3 separate regions of the Homo sapiens genome follow, and regions 1 and 3 are each linked to region 2. The links come from fine-mapping of genetic effects on gene expression. A gene starts in region 2. Each other region holds a variant in brackets. All regions are shown on one strand. Distances are between the middles of the regions.

Region 1 (4,244 bases), 220 kb after region 2:
ACCTGCTTGACACTTCTAACTCTCCATTCTAAATGAGCAAAAATTTCATCTCCCTGAAAGCAGAGGGAAGACATTGCTGGGTCAGTTTCAAAGGCTCATTGGTTACCTTCCTGCCACAATAGACCATTGAGAGTCTCTGCTCCCCGTTCCTGGCATGGTGGAAACTGACCTTACACTCACCTTCCTCTATGTACTTCTGAGTGAGAACTTGAACTTCAACATCCCCCTCTAGCTCCCTAGGAAAGTGAAGAGGTATGGAATATGCCCTCAGTAGCCTGGCTTGATTCTATCTTTTGGCTGTTTGCTGCATTTGTAGAAGGAAAAGAACAATAGAAAACATTGCTTCTCTCTTTGCAGACTAAGCATTTACAGTGGAACATAGCTAAGTAGGAAACCAAGAAAAAGAGAGGATGAGATGTTAACTGACGAATCAAGTTACTCTTGTGTGCTCCAGTAACAGATGTCCAAGAGGCTTCAGGCCTACCTTTGTGCCTCCTTTTTTAAACGTATTTGATCATCTGCAAGTTGGACTGATTTACATCATATGAAACCCATGAGATGTGCTTGAGGCAGGAGAATGAATGAATTAAAGGCTTTTTCCGTATGTTATTTTCACCCTGAAGTAGTTAACCTATCCCAGTGTGTATCAAAAGCAGAAGAAACTGATTCTGCAATGCCAAGTTGTTTCTGCCTTGGACCATTTACCATACCTGAATCTTATGTGTCTTTTTTTTTTTTTTTTTTTTTTTTTTTGCTGAACCTCATCCACAAAATGTGTTATAGGCAGTACAAAAAAAATTATTTAAATTAAATTAGTGATAGTTAGCTTTAAAAAACATGCAACATTTCAGTTCCCTGCAAGGGGCTCTGAAATGTCCAATGATATGTTTCAGAGCCATTAAGCTTGTTTGCCTCTTTCTGCTTCTCCTTCCTGACCACTGTTGTGGGGGCAGAGAGCCAGATGTCAGGAGGTTCCTTTCCCAAACCAGTTAGCATGTCCTCATATTTTGCCCTCTTCAGCCACAGCTTGTTCTCGGCTCTCTCCCTGCATGAATCAACAGCAGTCCCAGGACAGGCAGAGACCATCAGGAGCTTAACCTTCACACAGAGAGAGACTCCAGATCTCAGAGAGCAGTGCTCAAGATTCCAAGACAGAACCCTGGGATTTTCTACTGTGAGTTTCATGCTGCAAATACACAAATCAACAGTTATTTTGTATGTATACTCAGGTTTCTTCATTTATTTGAAAAGGTGGAGGAAGGAATGGAGAAAAATGGACAGAGGTAGGAGTGTGTGGGGGTGTGTGTGTGTGCATGCATGCACGTGTGTGTGTGTGAAAAGGCATTATATTTAAAGAACAATGGTTTTTGATAGCCTTATAATTACTATATTCTAATAGGATGCTGAGCACGGCCTTGGCCGGTTAACTCTATTTGCTTAGTCATTCGTTCATTTACACATGTATTTACCCATTAACTAATAGGCCAGTCAAATGAGGTTACTTCTGGAGTGCTGTAGTTCTGTTTGCATATCAGGATCTACAATAAAAGCATTGCCTTAGGTCCTCAGGTAGAGGTTGATCAGGGGCAGAAAGGCTTTTCCTGCTGACTCCACCAGCAGCATTCTGGTAAGATGAAAAATGGAGAATGATTAGT[G/A]TGGGCCACCCTTGAGAGACTATGGTTAGTCATAATTGAGTAGACACAGCAATACCTTCACGAGACTATCCATCAAGAAATAAGTTTTTTAAACTGTAGTTCTAGTAAGAAAGACAAACCTATTTATTTTGTTTAAGTAAGTGTGCTTGGTGCCAGGGATTCGAAATAAGATAGGGGCTCATCTCTTTGGCCTTAATTCTAGGCTAAACATTACTCAGCTTGATGGTAAGTGTAAAACTGAATACAACTACTACAGCAATGACCCACTGGAAATGTGTAGCACTTTACAGTTTATAGAAATCCTTTTATATGCTTGTTCTCGTTTGATCCTTGCATTATTCTTTAGTTAATTGAACAAGTGTTATTTCCATTTTCTAAATGAACAAACTAAAACGAAGACACCTAAATCACTTGCCTAAGATTACACAGCTGAACTCAGACTAGAACTCAGAATGTCTAATCCCTAGTTTAAGGCTCTTTTAATACTTCACTGTGCCAATTATCAATTTTTGTCCCTCCAAATTTTCCCTTGAGTTCTCTCTCTGCCGTTAATGTTTGGAATCCCTTTAAGCTGTCCTCCTTTATGTGAGCACCATATTAAGCTTTCTAAGTAGAGGGTGCTGGAGGGATATTGCAGGAGGAAGGGACTTCTCTTGTAGGCTCCAGCAGCTGCACTGTTGGTCACTGGTATGAGTGTGAGTGCATCTGGTGGTACTGTGCCCCAGCCAGAGCACACAGTCCCTTGGTAAGCTTGCAGCCCTGACCTATCCTAGTGATCACCTTCTCATAGCCCTCCCAACACAGACACTAGAAATTCTAGCCCTCTTGCCCCTCTGCATGCCCACTCACCTGCCTCACCAGTTGTGACTCACTTGTACCCTGCCACTCAGATTTGCCCTCCTGACATGGACACTAGGAGTGCCAAGCCTTCTACCCAACAGTGATAGTCCCAAAGTATCTGTGCATACCCAATCTGGCTGTGGCTCATGTACTTCCTAGAGAGTAGCTTTCTTCTTACTCAGTGACTGTTAACCAGCTCTGGCATGAGCAAGCCAGCAAACCTCTCTTCCATCCATTGAAGTGCAACTAGACCTTCTGCAACCAGATAAGAACCTGAGCCTTGAGGAAAGATCCCCTTCCATCCTTCCTTGAGCACTCTCCCTCAGCCCTGTGGAACATTATAAAGTTCTCTTACATCTTATAGTTACTGTTTTCTTATAGCTTAATCTTTTTTTTTGAGACAGGTTGTCACTCTGTTGCCCAGGCTAGAGTGCAGTGGCGTGATCTTGGCTCACTGCAGCTTCTGCCTCCCAGGTTCAAGTGATTCTCCTGCCTCAGCCTCCCAAGTAGTTGGGATTACAGGTGTGTGCCACTGTGCCCAGCTAATTTTTGTATTTTTAGTAGAGACGGGTTTCACCATGTTGGCTAGGCTGGTTTTGAACTCCTGACCTCAGGTGATCTGTCTGCCTTGGCCTCCCAGAACGCTGGGATTACAGGTGTGAGCCACCGTGCATAGCCAGCTTAATCATTCTTTATATTAAGCTTCCCTTATTTAAATCACTGTTTGGTTCCTGTCTCCTGATTGGACCCCAGTTGATGCACTCACTAAATGTTGGTGTGAAGTCACAGACAAGGTAAAGTTTCCTATGGGTAGGACTTTATCATATATCTCACATCACTACAAGCACCTGCCTATTTTAATGCCTGACACACAAAAAGTCTTGAATAAGTTCTGATTAATTGAGCACAATTTAAGTTAATTTTAACACCCCTATTTGTTGAGATGTAATAACAGCCTACTGAGAGGTCCAGCATGCTGAGAGGAAAGAGTCAAAAATTTGTTCATGTATGTGATCACTTATTTGTTCAGTAATGTTGATCAATAATGTTGACTGGGATAAGCAGCACTGGCTCCAACTGCAGGTCAAACAGCAGAATTGGCCCCAACTGGGAGGCGGAGTGAATCATTGCTGTTAGAGGACAAGCAAAGGGAACATTCAGAAGGAAAGAATGAAAACAACACAGAAAGACCCAGAAAGAACCAGGGAAATACAGAGTACTCTAATCACTTCTGAGGCTCAGAGGGGACAAATGACCTGTCCCATGTCATGTAGCCCTCTTCTTGGCAGAGCCAAGAGTAGAGAGCAGATTCTATAATCCTCAGTCTAAACTCTTGACATTACATATTGCATTGCTTCTCCAAGTGGGGCAGGAAGGGGTGGTAATGCAAACTGCCATTTCGGGAAGTGGTTAAAAAAAATACCTTAAAATGTGGTTATCCTTTACCTAGTAGTTCTAAAGGAGTCCATGTTTGGGATCCAAGAAATTCCCCTGCCAATGCTATTACCTTTTGGAAAACAGCTAGCAGTCTGTCAAATATGCTAGATTTGGGGTTTGACGCCCCTCAAGGTAATCAGTGACCTGTTAAACCACAGTATCTCAAGCCTTGTAGGCAAAGCAAAATGTTACCTGTCCTACCCCTGCTCAAAGTATCCATCATTTCTCTAATGTAGTCTCACACCCATATGTAAAGCCTCTCTAGCACTCCTTTCCAAAATCTGTAGCTTAATTATGCTAATGATCTTCATT
Region 2 (4,240 bases):
TGAACTTCATTAGGGATTTGAAACAGTTTTAGTTGGTTAGTGGTTCTACTTCAGGTAAGGAATCAAGACAAAAGGGAAATGATTCAAAGAATGAGGGAACTGGGACCCTTTTAAGTTGCAGATGAGGTCATCTGTGTTTGGATCAGAGACCTATAATTTATGTAGATTCACATACATCTTTTTCAGATATGCATACATTGGGGACTGTAGAGTGTTGTGGAACTAAATGTATTTGTATGTGTTCAACACACTGTATAATTGACTCAATTATCCATGTGGAGATTATTCAGATTTAATGTGCAATCTGGTTTCTCCTTTCAGTTAGGTTGTTCTTGGGCTGCTCCAGGAACTCCAACTAATTTAAATAATAATTTAAGTAAAACATAATTAGGAAGGAAAATTAAATTCAATTTTTTGGCAGCTCTTGAATATTCTACTGCTGAAACGTAACTAATCCATCCACTATCTTTTAATTCACCAATGCCTTTTTAGTACCACAGGATTTTACTGCTTTCTATAGATTATTGCAGTAGTTTCCAGGTAGCTCTCCTGCTTACCTCTTTCCATTTCAATCATCATTCTGCTGACAGCAACCTTCAAAAATCCAACTCCCACTGCAAAATTTCTTTGGTTCAAAACATTTAATGGATAGAAAAAACATTTAATGCTTACCCATTTCTCACCAGATTAAGTGCACATGCCACAACCAGTCATTAAAGGCTTTTTCTAGTCTAAATTCCTGTTCTTCAAACGTCAAACCGCCCTTCTACTCTACTGACCTGAAACACACAGCCTCACCCTCCACATCTCTGCAGACCCACCGCATTTGCCACCTGCCCTAGGGAGCTTTTCCTGATCTTACCTCGGATGCCTTTCACTGCTCCCACATCTGAATTCCTTTAACTCACTCCATGTTTTTCTCAAAGGCAGACCAAGGTATTTATGCAAACATGGTGTCTCCCTAGTCTTGGGTGAGGTCTTTGACATCACTCACTGCAGCGATTCATCTCCCCTACTCTGCACTGTCAGACTCTAAAGAAGGGTGCAACAAATACTTGTCCATTTAGACTGCCGGCAAACCCTGAGGGCAGGAATTTTGGCCTTTTGTATCTCCAGTGCCTAGAACAGTGCTTGGTACACAGTAGGCACTCATTCATTGAACGTTGCTGAAGGAATTGAACGTACATACTACAAGCCCTGCAGATGCAGATACAGGAGGGGTTGACGGCACAGTGCTTAGGGTGGAACTGGAGGCACCACCTCTCCTGAGGGGTGATGCGCCGCTTCCTGGGCAGGCTCGGGGGAGCTCGCTCAAATGCCTGCCTCTCTGTAGCCCAAACGCTGGAAAAAAAAATACTCACAAATCACCTATCCAAGTATGTACACACAGGCTCACTTAAACCCGCCCTATTAAAAAAATATACACACGCACACACCATTTATCCAAGTATGTATACACGGGCTTGCTTAAACCTGCCCTATTAAAAATAATAATGTATATATTTATGCACGAACATACACACATATATCTATACAGGTCTGTACATAGACTTGCTTAAACCTGCCCTATTAAATACAGACACACACCCCTATCCAGGTATGTACATACATATATAATATATAAATATAAAGACATATATATGCACAGACTTAACTCCAACACGATTGGAGTGTCGGGAGGGCAACTGGGCTGCCCTCTCCGCCCTCCAGGACTGCGGGACAAGTCTCCCGGCGCCCGGGTCGCAGGAGACCCGGAGCCCTAAAACGGCCCCTGCGCGGCTTGGGCCTTCCGGCTTTCCGTCCGCCGCGGCCGCCATTGGCTGGGTTCGGCGCAGCTAACAGACGGCGGCAGTGCGAGAAAGCCGAAGATGGCGGTCCCCGCGGCGCTGATCCTACGGGAGAGCCCCAGGTAGCTGATCCGTTAAGCTCTTGCGGTAGCCGCGCCCAGGAAGGCCCAGATCGGGCTCGCACAAGGCTGTCCTTGCTGCCTGCCGCCTGGGCGCCGCGGCGGGCCCGGTTGAGTGGGGTGGGGTGGGGTGGGCTGCCGAGGTTGCGACGCTGCGTCTGCGGAGTGCGTGGGGCCGTGTAGCGCCTCTACAGTCACGGTGGTCCACCTGTGGGGCTCACAGTGCGCCTGGCAGCTGAGGTCTGTACGGAAGCGTGTGGTCTGCAAGCGTGGGGTCTGCGTCACTGTTCGCGGAGTTTGGTATCAGAAGTTCCCGGGTGCTGCCTTCAGTGCTGCCGAATCACGTGGAACGGTATTCCGTTTCCGATTTCAGTTCCGGTTCAGACACTCTGGTGGGAAAGGCTCACGCTGCTGCTGGAGGGTCTTTAATAGCCAACATGTGTTAATACCCCTTTTAAATCAGTATCGAATAGGGGACCGAATTTTTGGTTGGTAGAAGAATCTAGCCTGGCTTTGGTAGCATTTGCTTTTATTTGCATTTTAAACAGATTTTTAGTTAATTTCTACTTATGGTAGATAAAGTTGGTTGTCCATGGTAGTGATATAAAGCTCCCCTTTAACATTATTTAAGTAAAAAAAGACTCAATTTGTGAAAAAATAAGCAATAGTGCAGGTAGCGTGTGGATACAGAAAAAGTACTGAAGTATATAGGCAAAATAGTGTTCGGAAGTAATTTCTTTGTGCTTGGATTGGGTAGAAATCTTTCAGAAGAAAAGAGTTATTTTAAAGTTTTTCCTTCTTTCTGGATTCCTTTTGTTACCAGTGGAGGGTGTCCAGGTTCTTGGCGTCTTGAACAAAGAACTGGAGAAGACGCACAAAGAAAGCGAGGAAAGAATGAAGAAGACATTTATTGAAAATGAAACTACCCTCCACAGTGTGGGAGCTGCTTGAGCATAGGGGCTGAAGGGCCCCTACAGAATTTTTGGGAATTTAAATACCCTCTAGAGGATTCCATTGGTTACTTGGTGTACTCCCTATGTAAATGAAGAGGATGAAGTAAAGTTACAAAGTCATTTTCTCCGCCTATGCCATATGGAGAGGACATTTCTTGTCATAGCTGAAGTGGGAATCAGCTTTATGTTCCCAGCCTCCTGACCCTATTTTCCTGCCTCACTTTGGTTCTGATCGCCAGTTTCTTTCCTCATACCAGTGTCTTGGGGAACACCGCTACATCAGTAAACTGTATCCAATATGGTGCAGTATAGAATTGTTCTCATCACATCATTTAAAGTTGATTATTACAGGAAAGGTGCTGTGGCTCATGCCTGTAATTCCAGCACTTTGGGAGGCTGAGGCGGGCTAATCTCTCTCTCTTTTTTTTCCCTGAGAGGGCGTTTCCCTCTTGTTGCGCAGGCTGGAGTGCAATGGCGCCATCTCGGCTCACTGCAGCCTCCGCCTCCTGTGTTCAAGCGATTCTCCTCCCTGAGCCTCCTGAGTAGCTGGGATTACAGGCACCCGCCACCACGCCCAGCTAATTTTTTGTATTTTTAGTAAAGATGGGGTTTCACCATGTTGGCTAGGCTGGTCTGGAACTCCTGGCTTCGGGTGATCTGTCCTCCCTGGCCTTGCAAAGTGCTGGGATTATAGGGGTGAGCCACTGCAGGACTGATTGAGCTCAGGAGTTCAAGACCAGCCTGGGCAACAGGGCAAAACTCTGTCTCTACAAAAAATACAAAAATTAGCCAGCGCTGTGGCCCGCGCATGTAGTTCTAGCTACTTGGGAGGCTGAGGCACAAGGATTCTTAGAACCCAGGAGGCAGAGGCTGTAGTGAGCTGAGATCGTGCCACTGCACTCCAGCCTGGGTGACAGAGTAAGACCCTATCTCAAAATTGATTACTGTTGTAATAATAAATTTGATTTTACAGTTGAAACAGGGTTTTAAAATAACTGTGTGCTTAGTGACCCCAGATGATTTTGTACATAGTATTTGAAAAGTTATTTGCCTTGCAGTATTCTTTTATGTTTTTGGTGTAATTGCCATAATTGCTATTCCTCTCCTCCCACCCCTTTCAGAGTTCCATTTTTGGGTTAAGTGTTTATATAAACGCTCTACTAAATTAAGGCTCTTCCCTGCGCAGTACAAGGTTTCCCTAGTAGTTTGGTTTGCCCAAAAGAAAGAGAAAATTTGCCAAATGGACCTTTTCAGCAGAAGTAATTTTGGGGGCATCTTTTTGGAAATGTACCCGTTGCCCTGCCTTTTTTGCTGGCTGTCATCTGTTTTTATTTCACTCAGATTTACCATATAGCATTCAGAGTTGTTGGAATGAAAACTT
Region 3 (4,232 bases), 210 kb after region 2:
GACCTTCACTAATACCCCAGCTGGGAGTTCTAGGGCCTCTCAAATGTTTTCTGATATTTTGCTCCCTCTGGCACCTGCCCGTGGAACTGCAGCTCTAATATGCCTCTCACCTCTGTTTTCAGTGCCTTCCAAACGCTGGTGCTGGGCGTGTGAGTGCCCTTCTTTAATTAATACAGAAACCAGTTCCTTGGGAATCCCCCAGAAAGCCAGAATGTTGGATGTATGGTTCATTCTTTTATTTCTGTCCTGAGGGAGGAGCTCTGGCATGGGGGGTGGTGGGTTCTTCTTGGTTGCTCCGCTATTCCACATGGGAGAGAGGCATGCATGAATACACTGAACACTGTGAAATTCATTTCCTACCACTTTCATTGGAATTCCTTCTTGGTTTTATAATGGTGTGGGTGCTGTAGCATCTCAACTGGTCTCTCAAGTTCTCACAAGGGTATTCTGATCCGTATATTGTTAACTTGGTACCTTAGTGGTGGAAAGAGGGCCTCTAGCTTTCTAGTCTACCCCTATAGCTATTGTTCTTTTAAGAAGTATGTTTTCGAAGTTACATTTCTTCTCTTTCCTCAATGTAACATTTTAGGAAACACCACCTTAAAACAAAGCAAAGCAAAATATAGAAAACAAGAACCTGGCTTGACTGCCACCTTTAGGGGTACATCAGATCAGTTGTTTACGTGCTGATTCAGCCTTCATTCTCTCCTATCTTTTTGGATGGAGGTGAGAGTGATGAACTTGTCTTGCTTTTCTCAGAACTTTAGGGTAAACCTAGGCTTATCATCCTTCCTTAACTGCTAGGAGGGCATATACTATGTATAGATGATGCTGATTAAATCTTTGGAGCTTTAATGATGTGTGACAGCCAATGAATTTTTCTAATATAGTATAAAAACTTCATGATTTTATATCATTCTTAAAGGAAGAGGCTTTAAAGCAGATGTACTTCTTTTTTCATTTTAAAGCTTAAGTACTTAGATATATGAGAGAAAATGAAGAAGTATGGAAATTTGATCCTGTACACTTAGCTTCATGAAGAGTGAGATGCATTTTCTGAACATAGCCCCATTGACTCTTCTGGAATTAGTTGGAGATAATTTGGTTTGAAATGTCGGCTTTGTAAATAGAAATGGAAATCATTAAAACAGATAAAAGTGAACATAGAAACTGCGAACTAGAATAAACAGTATGTTGGAAATGACCATGTGGCTCAATTTTGCATCAGTTTTCTACTTCTTTAGTTCATGATGCCCATTTTATGTCATGTGATTACAGCAGTGTGATCAGAGCAGTTAGCATATTCTTGGCATTTTCTCCTCATTAACTTTCACTTCTTCAGAGGGACCTTGAGTAAAATAAACACATTTGAGCAGTCTTAAGCAAATTGTTTGAATTGTTTCCTCAGTATACAGAATCAACCAAAAGTAGGTTGGATTGAGTTGAGTTGGGTTTAGTTTAATATCATACTTTACTACAGCATCATACATACATATACAATATTACCTAGCATCTGTAGCACCCATAAAGGATTCTCTAATGCATGTGAAGTAAAAGGAAAGAGAGTGTTTAAGTCCTGACTTTGAAACTGTTGTGTTAATTGTGAACTTTTGCTGAGTCTATACATTGAAGAAGGTAACACTCAGCATGTTGAGATCACAACTGCTAGATTAGTGCTTGGAGGCAGTAGCTGTGCTGATGTGAGGCATTAATGGCTGGGTGAGTTCAATCAGATATCCTGCCTCCAGTGTCTTTGTGTAATGGTATTTACTAGATTTCAAACAGACTGCTGAGAAAGATGAAATATAATCTCATGTATTATCTCTGTCTTGAAAAAATTAGATAATAAAGTTGTTCTCTTACTGGCATATGTTTTATTAACCTTCGTAGAGTCAACTTAAAGGACAGATGTCTGTAGAATTGAAACCTTTTGCTAGAGTGTTATTAAGTGCATTTTTGAGTTCTAGGAATCATGGGGTTGAGTAGAGCAGGTAAGCATTTTTTAAAACCACTCAGAGGACAATCTTATGTCATATTCTGAGGTTAGCTGGAGAGAAAAAATGTGATGTAAATTGTGTGCAACTACATTCTTTTTGTTGTTTTTCTTCCTTACAGAGCCTGGAGAAAGTTCTTGTGGAATTCAGTCACAAGGAGTTGTTTGATTTCTATAACAAGGTCTGTATTTTTAAAATAATTTTCTAATATGTGGAGTTTTTTTCATAATATTTTGTTTCATTTTATGAATTCTTATTTTTAAATGTCATATTATGGAACTAAGTTCTTTAAACTTCCCTTATAAAAGACCTTATGTTTCACAGGAGGAAGTATAGCAGAAATGAAGAGAATTTGAAAAACTAAATCAGGAAGAAAAGGAAAATAGTTTTAATTAAAGCAATAGGATTGTTGCTTTAATATAAAACATTAAGTAATGAACTTTGTGATTCCTAGCCACACTGACACTTTAAATATAT[A/G]TAATGTCAAATACTTTAATTTCTGGGCCCAAGGGTAAAGGGAAACATGCCTTTAGAGATTTATCTGTGAGTATATTTCATGTCTCTTTCTGAAGACTGATTTTGTAATCCAGGAAAATATACTCCCTCCACCCCCCAACTTTAAAATATTATCAAGTAGGCAGTTCTTCTGCCAGTGTACTGCCACTGGAGCATGCGTGTGGTTATCCTGTTCAGCCCACCACCACTGTACCCACTCCCTCATATGTAAGCCTCCAATAAAACCCCATGTCTCATTAAAAAAAAAATTATGGAGTGATAATTTAAAAGGAAACAGCTGAAGACACTTAAAACAACAGTATTAAGAAATCTTCTTTCTTTGAAAATTTGAAAACTTAAATTTTCAAGCACAAATTCTAATATCTTCACCTAAAAAGAAAAATATTCTAAGTGGTAATTTTATTGCTATGTGAATGGATTTAATATTCATAGTTACCAGTGCTATTTTTTCCTTTCTATTTGCATGTGTCTGAATAACACTTGATATGAGTTTCGTTCCCTTCACTAACGTCTTTTTTTTTTTTTGTCTTTGTAAATAGCTAGAGACTATACAAGCACAGCTGGATTCCCTTACATGATGTTTTCGAAGACTGTTTTTTTCATCACGCTCCTGCCACCTCATTATTTTGCATTGAAGATACATTGCCAGGTTGTGTTTTCTGAAGGATTCAGTGACTTGCTTTCTGTAAATTATATGGCTTATCACTTCTTAGACAAATAACAACCAATAGAGATCATTGTTAAGAATACTGAGGTTCTAATATACTTTCTTTAGTTCTGTGAGCCAACAGTAATTATTAAGAACACTTTCCCTTTAAAGGAAACAAAAGTGAATACCATATTGTTTTTACTGTCATAGTGTTGCTTTCTTGCCTGTCCTGCTTAGTTTTTACTTGCTGGATGATACCATAATGTATCAAGGAGCGTCCATGGATACAAGATAAGATGTGTACCTTAGTAGAATACAGAGCTTTGGTAATTACATGAATAAAATTAAGAAAATAGCCATATACAATCAAATACACTATGGCATTTTTATTTGAATATGATGAGTATATTTTGCTTCGGAAATAATATAGGAAGGAAATGTAAAATAGTGAGTAGTATGGTATCAGTTAATTCCAGTCTGAGCTTCTCTGTCAACTTCAGTTTCTCTCTCAGTTTAATGATTTAATAATAGTCCAGGTTTTTGTGTGTTTTTCTTTATACTGCAAATTAATAATGATTCACTTTATAGTTTGGGAGACAGAATCAGGTCTTGAATAAAATAATTGTAATGAGTGCTAAATGGGCACCATTATTCGAATCAGATACCTTTTATATTCTCTTTCCATAAATACGTTGATTTCTGTCAATAAAATTTTTGTGTCTTAGGATTGGTTGAAGTGTACATTTTTTAATTATATACATTATAGTATATTTTATGCCATGAATGTATGTAAATGAATACATTTACGTACATTTGTTAAAATGTATGTAATGAATACATTTACATACATTTGTTTAAAAAAAACTTGAATTTTTTATGAATGAAATTTCTGTATTGTTTCCAAAAAGAGAGAGATTCAAACATGACTTGCTTCACATGAAGAAATTTGATTTCAGAAATGTCCTATATTTAAATAAGCAAAGCCATTGAAATTGAAGCACATTTCTTATTTGAAGCATCTGGGAAATACAACTGTTAAGTATCTCTCAAATATTCAGTATATGGAATTTATA

Which allele goes with the higher level. Positions count from the first base shown, and alleles are read on the strand shown. Sizes are in standard deviations (SD) of each study's normalised expression. Not every link is listed here.
For the expression in lymphoblastoid cells of the gene that starts at base 1,841 in region 2, A is the high allele of the variant in region 1 and G is the other (large effect, 0.76 SD a copy in GTEx).

The links. PIP is the estimated chance that this variant, and not a neighbour inherited with it, causes the effect. A credible set is the group of variants that fine-mapping cannot tell apart.
Region 1: its variant is the best candidate, but not a certain one, in a credible set for the expression of COMMD10 in lymphoblastoid cells (GTEx, PIP 0.66).
Region 3: its variant is the best candidate, but not a certain one, in a credible set for the expression of COMMD10 in whole blood (INTERVAL, PIP 0.54).

The regions. Positions count from the first base shown.
Region 1 is chr5:116,302,510-116,306,753 of GRCh38, forward strand. No RefSeq gene overlaps it. Among named protein-coding and RNA genes, the nearest start is that of MIR12130, 49 kb to the left of the region's middle. The variant G/A (reference allele first, on the strand shown) is at 1,656.
Region 2 is chr5:116,083,185-116,087,424 of GRCh38, forward strand. COMMD10 (COMM domain containing 10) reads left to right here and starts at 1,841. Exons shown (of 7, transcript NM_016144.4): 1 at 1,841-1,909. The coding sequence starts at 1,869. RefSeq lists enhancers at 1,635-1,794, 2,088-2,382.
Region 3 is chr5:116,289,402-116,293,633 of GRCh38, forward strand. It overlaps COMMD10 (COMM domain containing 10), which reads left to right. Exons shown (of 7, transcript NM_016144.4): 6 at 2,116-2,175; 7 at 3,050-3,886. The coding sequence ends at 3,088. Among named protein-coding and RNA genes, the nearest start is that of MIR12130, 36 kb to the left of the region's middle. The variant A/G (reference allele first, on the strand shown) is at 2,472.